Regions from separate parts of the Homo sapiens genome. Here region 1 is linked to region 2. The links come from fine-mapping of genetic effects on gene expression. A gene starts in region 2. The other region holds a variant in brackets. All regions are shown on one strand. Distances are from middle to middle.

Evidence for each region. PIP is the estimated chance that this variant, and not a neighbour inherited with it, causes the effect.
Region 1: its variant is fine-mapped to the expression of LINC02028 in nucleus accumbens (GTEx, PIP above 0.99). The same link has a PIP of 0.9 or more in anterior cingulate cortex, caudate, nasal epithelium, substantia nigra and thyroid.

Annotation. Positions count from the first base shown.
Region 1 is chr3:194,008,992-194,011,897 of GRCh38, forward strand. All of the region lies in intron 2 of LINC02028 (long intergenic non-protein coding RNA 2028), which reads right to left. Among named protein-coding and RNA genes, the nearest start is that of LINC02026, 6.8 kb to the left of the region's middle. The variant T/G (reference allele first, on the strand shown) is at 1,590.
Region 2 is chr3:194,069,533-194,072,438 of GRCh38, forward strand. LINC02028 (long intergenic non-protein coding RNA 2028) reads right to left here and starts at 1,438. Exons shown (of 3, transcript NR_136179.1): 1 at 1,290-1,438. It overlaps LOC102724877, which reads left to right and starts at 557. Exons shown (of 6, transcript XR_002959666.2): 1 at 557-743. RefSeq lists a silencer at 1,456-1,635.

The sequences.
Region 1 (2,906 bases), 61 kb before region 2:
TGCTGTTTTAAGCCACTCAATTTGTGGTAATTTGTTACAGCGACCATATAAAACTAATAATTTCACTTTTGCAAAATAACTTTTCTTCATTTCTTCCTCTCTTTGATATACTTCCTAAAGGCAAGAGCTACAAACCAGTATACTAATGGACTGGGGAAAAAGCCTACCTTTCTCTCTATCCAGTCCCCAGGGCAGGGCCGCAATTACGTTCAAAGGGAGGGAGAATGCCAGCTCACAAAACCTGACTGCTCCACTTCCTCTCCAGGGGAGACAGCAGCAGTGAGAGAGGCTGAATCCGTGATTATGGACTATGCAGAAAGTGAGTCTCAAAATAAACAGCTCCTGGAGTCAAAGCTCAGGGGACGACATATAGAATTTTAGAGTCTTCAGGACAGAGAGAGAGCAGGTAGTTCAACTTCTTCAGGGAGAGTTTTCAGAGGTACAAGAGAGCAAGGAATTTTGTATATTTGCATATGTTTTTGTTTTATTGAGGACTCTGAGGGCTGGAGAGCAGAGAAATCTGTCCAGGGTCACAAACTAGGGGCTGATACCAACTTCACCACCCAGTGCAGGAGGGCTCTTCTTCTACTTCTGGGGTCCCGCCTCTGTGGTGCTGCCCCCAGAATGGGGGCTTATTACATAACAGGTCTCACTCCCTTAGGTCCTTCATAAGCCCTCAGCTCTCCTGGTCTGGGGACCCCACTCCATGTCATTTTAAACATCTTAAAATGCATGATTATCTCATATCAAATGTAATTTTTTCTCTTTAAAAATCTCATGGTTCTTTTATAATTTTTGCTTCTGAAAGTAATTGCCTATAAACAACTTGCTTGATTTTAGATTTTCTACAGTTTTCAGTAATCATCATACAAACCCAGGAGAATCTAGCCATAGATTGTTTTCAAAAGCAATGAAATTTATATGAATGCTACATTTCATAATTAAAAAGACTGGCATTATGCTTTCTGTTGTACAGATTTAATTAACATTTTTATTAATTTCAGGTCTGCCTTTTAGTGTTTTGATTGGGAAGTATTTGGGGAAGCCTTCACATGAAGGATGGTCAACAGGTGTTAGCAGGTAAGGTAGACAGAACTGGGTGGCAGTGCCTGAAATGTCCAGCAAACATCTCGGCTTGTGGGGCTGAGTGTAGGTGAGGGAAATAGCAGGAGAATGGATTTTAAGCACTGAGCCAGGCACTACCATATCCATAATCTCCTCTGAGACTTGGAAACCAAGCTGGGGCCAGGTTACAAATGACTTCACATGCCATTCTCCCCGCTGCCTGCCACTTGTACCTTGGGCAGCCACTGGGGACATTCCTGGTTCTGGATTCCTGCCTCTGAGCAGCTCTCTTAACATGAGTAGGAGGCCTGTGCTTCCCCACACCCGTTTCCATCTGTTTGCATGGACCAGAGCCACTTGAGATAGGGCCTTCCTAGGAATAGAAGGTAAGACCAGCATCATTCCAGGGCCACTGTGGATGGGCTTTCCCCGCCCAGGAAATGACTGCTGCATTGATCTCTGTGCCACTCAGGCCAGGGCATCCTTGTGGGGAGGATTCCAGTCTGCATTGCATCAAATACCTA[T/G]GAGAGGGAAAAGCCGTTTAAGCTAAGCATATGTTTATTTGATTGAAACAAATAACTCTCACAGGCCACAAACAATACAGGCAGACAGATGTTTCAAGCGGCACCTCATCAGCTGATTGGGCCATCATGCAATATCAGTGCACAGAATAATTCTGGAAAGATTCTAGGAAGGGAAGTTGGCTATCTTAAAATCTCTCCCTTTGGGATGAATTTCACAGCAACCACTTTAGATGGCAGTAGCGACTGATTATCCCCATTTTAAACCTTAGAACAGAAGGACCACTCCCCCAGTGATACCCAACTAGGAATGGAAGAAGCCAAGAAGACCACAACCCAGGTCTTTAGACTCTGAGATCTCTTTTCGTTGAGCTTGGCAGAACTACCACTCCAAAGACTCACAGCCTCTCAACGAATGGTGAGAGCATGTTACAAAGACATAGAAACTGGCTTGAAAGGGCGCCTGCTGGTCAAACCTGGGACAATTTATTTATCAAAATAAGTAATAATGATAATAGTTGTAACTTTTGAGTAAAATAGAAATCTGTAAATCCACACTGATACAAACAAATACACAGAAAGAAGAGAAAGCTGTCTTTATAGTAAAATGACAACTGGTAAAAGTAGACATAATGGAATTAGAATCACCATTTAGCAATCATCATAGTGATATTCAGCCAAGAAACATCAGTAGATGTTAGAACTAGTGGGTGAATGTTTACTAAGAAATGGGGAAATTTCATACTTTCAGAGTACCTCCAGCCAAATTCTTATTAACGACAAAGGGAAAAAGAGTAATTTTACAATGAATAGTCCTGACAAATACCACCTCAACTGAATAATCAAAGTGAACATTGGCTGGGCGCGGTGGCTCATGCCTGCAATTTCAGCACTTTGGGAGGCCAAGACTTGTGGGGCACTTGAGCCCAGGAGTTTGAGACCAGCCTGGGTGATATGGCAAAGCCCCATCTCTACAGAAATACAAAAAGTTACCTAGGTGTGGTGGCGTGTACCTGTAGCCCCAGCTACTTGGGAGGCTGAGGTAGGAGGATCACCTGAGCCTGGGAGGTCGAGGCTGTAGGGAGCCGAGATCATGGCACTGCACTCTAGCCTAGGTGACAGAGTGGACCCAGTCTCAAAAAAAAAAAAAAAAAAAGCAAAACCAAAAAAAACCTACAGTGAACATCACCAATAATGGGTCAAGTAGAAATCATGCACCACCTGATCAGATGTAAATATCTTGTCAAAAATACACCTCTCAATCTAATCAGGAGAAAACATTCGACAAAACCAAACTGAGAGACATTCTACGAAATAATC
Region 2 (2,906 bases):
GCCCTAGCTCCCCGTGTGACTGTATTTGGAGACCTGGCCTTTATAGAAGTAATTAAGGTTAACTGAGATCATAAGGGTGGGGCCCTAATCTGATAGGATTGGTGTCTTCATAAGAACAGACTTGCTCTCTCTCTGTGGTCACATGACGACACAGTGAGCAGACAGCCTTCTGCAAGCCAGGAAGAGCACCCTCACTAACAACCTAATTCGCCATCATCTTGATCTTGGATCTCCCAGCCTCCAGAGCCAGGAGAAAATAAATGACTATTGTTTAAGCCACCAGTCTATGGTATTTTAGCAATCATTCATACACACACACAGCATCTGCTTTGTGCCAGCCACTATACAAGTCACTTTAGACGCAGTATCAGTTGATCTCCATTTTACAGATGAGAAAACCGAAGCTTAGATTAAGCAACTTGCCCAAGGTCACACATCTGGTGAGATTCCTAGCCAGTGGTAAATTGCATAACATTCAGCCAACAAACAGAGCAGCTGCCATAAGCAGAGTTCTCAAATAATCATTTGTGTGGAAATCAAAAAGGAGGGCAACACAGTCTCTGCCCTCAGGAAACTCCGGAAGGGAGGAGAGGACAGGTAGGCCATGAGTTACAGGGGGCCACAAACGTCATAAACAGGCGTTTGTCAAAGGCCGCCGGAGAACCGGGAAGCAATGATTGGGCAAATCTGGGAAGACTTCCACAGAGGAGGTGGCAAGCCGGAACAAGGCACACAAATGCCAGGTGCTCGTAGAGGGCTGGATACAATGGGGGCTTCACTACCAGGCCTGTCAGGTGGGGCACCCCCAGAAAATCAGGCTGAGGTGACGGACTGGGACGTCTCGCAGCATGAGGCTGAGTTTAGGCAAAGCTGTCGGGGTCCCAGGACCCATGATTTCCCCCCACCCCCGTCTGCCCCATTCCCAACTTCTCTATGGGGCAGGAACTCGACGAGGGGCACCATGCTGCAGAGAAAGGGCGCCATGCCTTTGGGGCTGGGGCTCGGCAGAAGGTCCTCTGAGCGTGGATTCCAACAGGAGCTCTGCCGCCACCCAGCAGGGTGACCTTGAATACGTCTGCCCGCATGGCTGGGCTTCAAAGACCTTGCCTGGGTGATGTGTGAGCACATGTGATTCCCGCTCACACCAGGCTCTAGGCTACCGTGCAGGCGGGAGCGCGTGGGGTGGTGCAGATCCCTTGCCTCGCCCCGGTGGGGGAGGCTGTTTCTGATTTGGGGGAGCAGGCAGCGTGGGGCCTCCCGTTCAGAGCTCTCTCACCACTGGGCCTGACCTCAGGGCGCCTGGCTGGGGCCAGGAAGGCGTTCGCGTCAGACAACCCCAGCGGGGAAGCCCCCCTCTCCCGCGGGCCAAACCGCAGCTTCTTGCAGCCACTCGCCCCGGCCGGTTTCGGGAGGAGGGCGGCGCTCCGAAGGCGGCCGCGCGCAACGGGGCCTCGGTCTGTGGACCAGCGTCCCCTGAGAAGCAGAAGGGGTGTGAAGGGCAGGAAAGGGGCCGTGCCGGGCTGTCCCTCCCGCCGCCTGCTCCGCGGGTGGCGCCCGGGGCCGGGTGGCAGCGGGGTGTGGGCGGGGAGACGCGGCGGGCGCGGGGGCGGCCGGGCAGGCGGCGCGCGCTCGGAAGTGCCCCCGGGCGGCCTCCGCGGCAGGCGGCTCCTGTTTCCCGGCTCCCGCCCGGGCGGGCGCGGGGCAGCTGCTGGGAGGTGAGCGGAGCAGCGTTTTCCCACAGTCTGGGGCGGTGACACATGGCGCTCACACATTCCACAGCCGGCGGCCGCGCCAGGCCTGGCTGCGAGTCAAGGCAGCGCCGGGAGCTGCCGACGAGCAGGTTCCGACTTTGGCACCCGCCGCGCCGCCTTCCCGCCTTCCCCACGCCCGGCGGGGGCGGAGGGGGACGCAGAGGGGCCCGCGCCGGCGGCTTAACCCTTGGACGTCTAGACACAACTTTGATCAGCAGTTTATTGAATCTCAGTGTGTGTCTCACCCAGGTGCTGAATAAATGTCGAATGCATGAATGAATTACTGAATGAATGAACGAATGAACGAACAAATGAATGGACGCGCGCACACATGCTGTAGGGAGCCCTTCTTGGCTCGCTCACGTAACGCACCTATGCAACAACTGGCCAATACGCTTTCCAAAGCTCCTGACTCCCACTCCGTACATTCTTTGGTGGTGTTTCTTTGAGACAGAGTCTCTCTGTCGCCCAGGCTGGAGTGCAGTGGCGTGATCACTGCAACCTCTGCCTCCCAGGTTCAAGCGATTCTCGTGCCAGGCTCCCACCACCACGCCCGGCTAATTTTTGTATTTTTAGTAGAGACGGGGTTTCGCCATGTTGGCCAAGCTGGGCTAGAACTCCTGACCCTGTCAGGTGATTCGCCTACCTCAGCCTCCCAAAGTGCTGGGATTACAGGCATGAGTCACCGCGCCCAGCCACTCTGTACATTCTTGAAAGGCCCCTGAAGTAAGGGGGGGATGTTGGCACCCCCAGTTTACAAGGAGGAAAGCGACTAGGAGAAGTAGCTTGCTAGGGGTGGCTTTGCACTTCTAGATTCAGATAGGAACCGCCAAAGAGATGGGGAATGGGGAAGCGGGGACATCCCCGTCATCTCCCCTCCCACCATTGGACATGGTAGGCCGGGCGGGAGTCAAGGCAGTGCTTATGCCTCGACTCCAGCCCAGAGCCTGGTGTGAGTGAGCATCACCTGTGGTCAGAGATCAGCCATTTGCCTCTGAGTCGGTGATGAGGGCGTTTGCCAATCTCTGGCGGGACTCCTTCCCACAACTCTCTGTTTACTGATGAGCAGTGGAAACCTTGATCAAAGACTATTCTGGCAACCATTTGACAGAAACAAAAACAATTTGAAAACTGCTTTAAAAAAAAATAGAACTT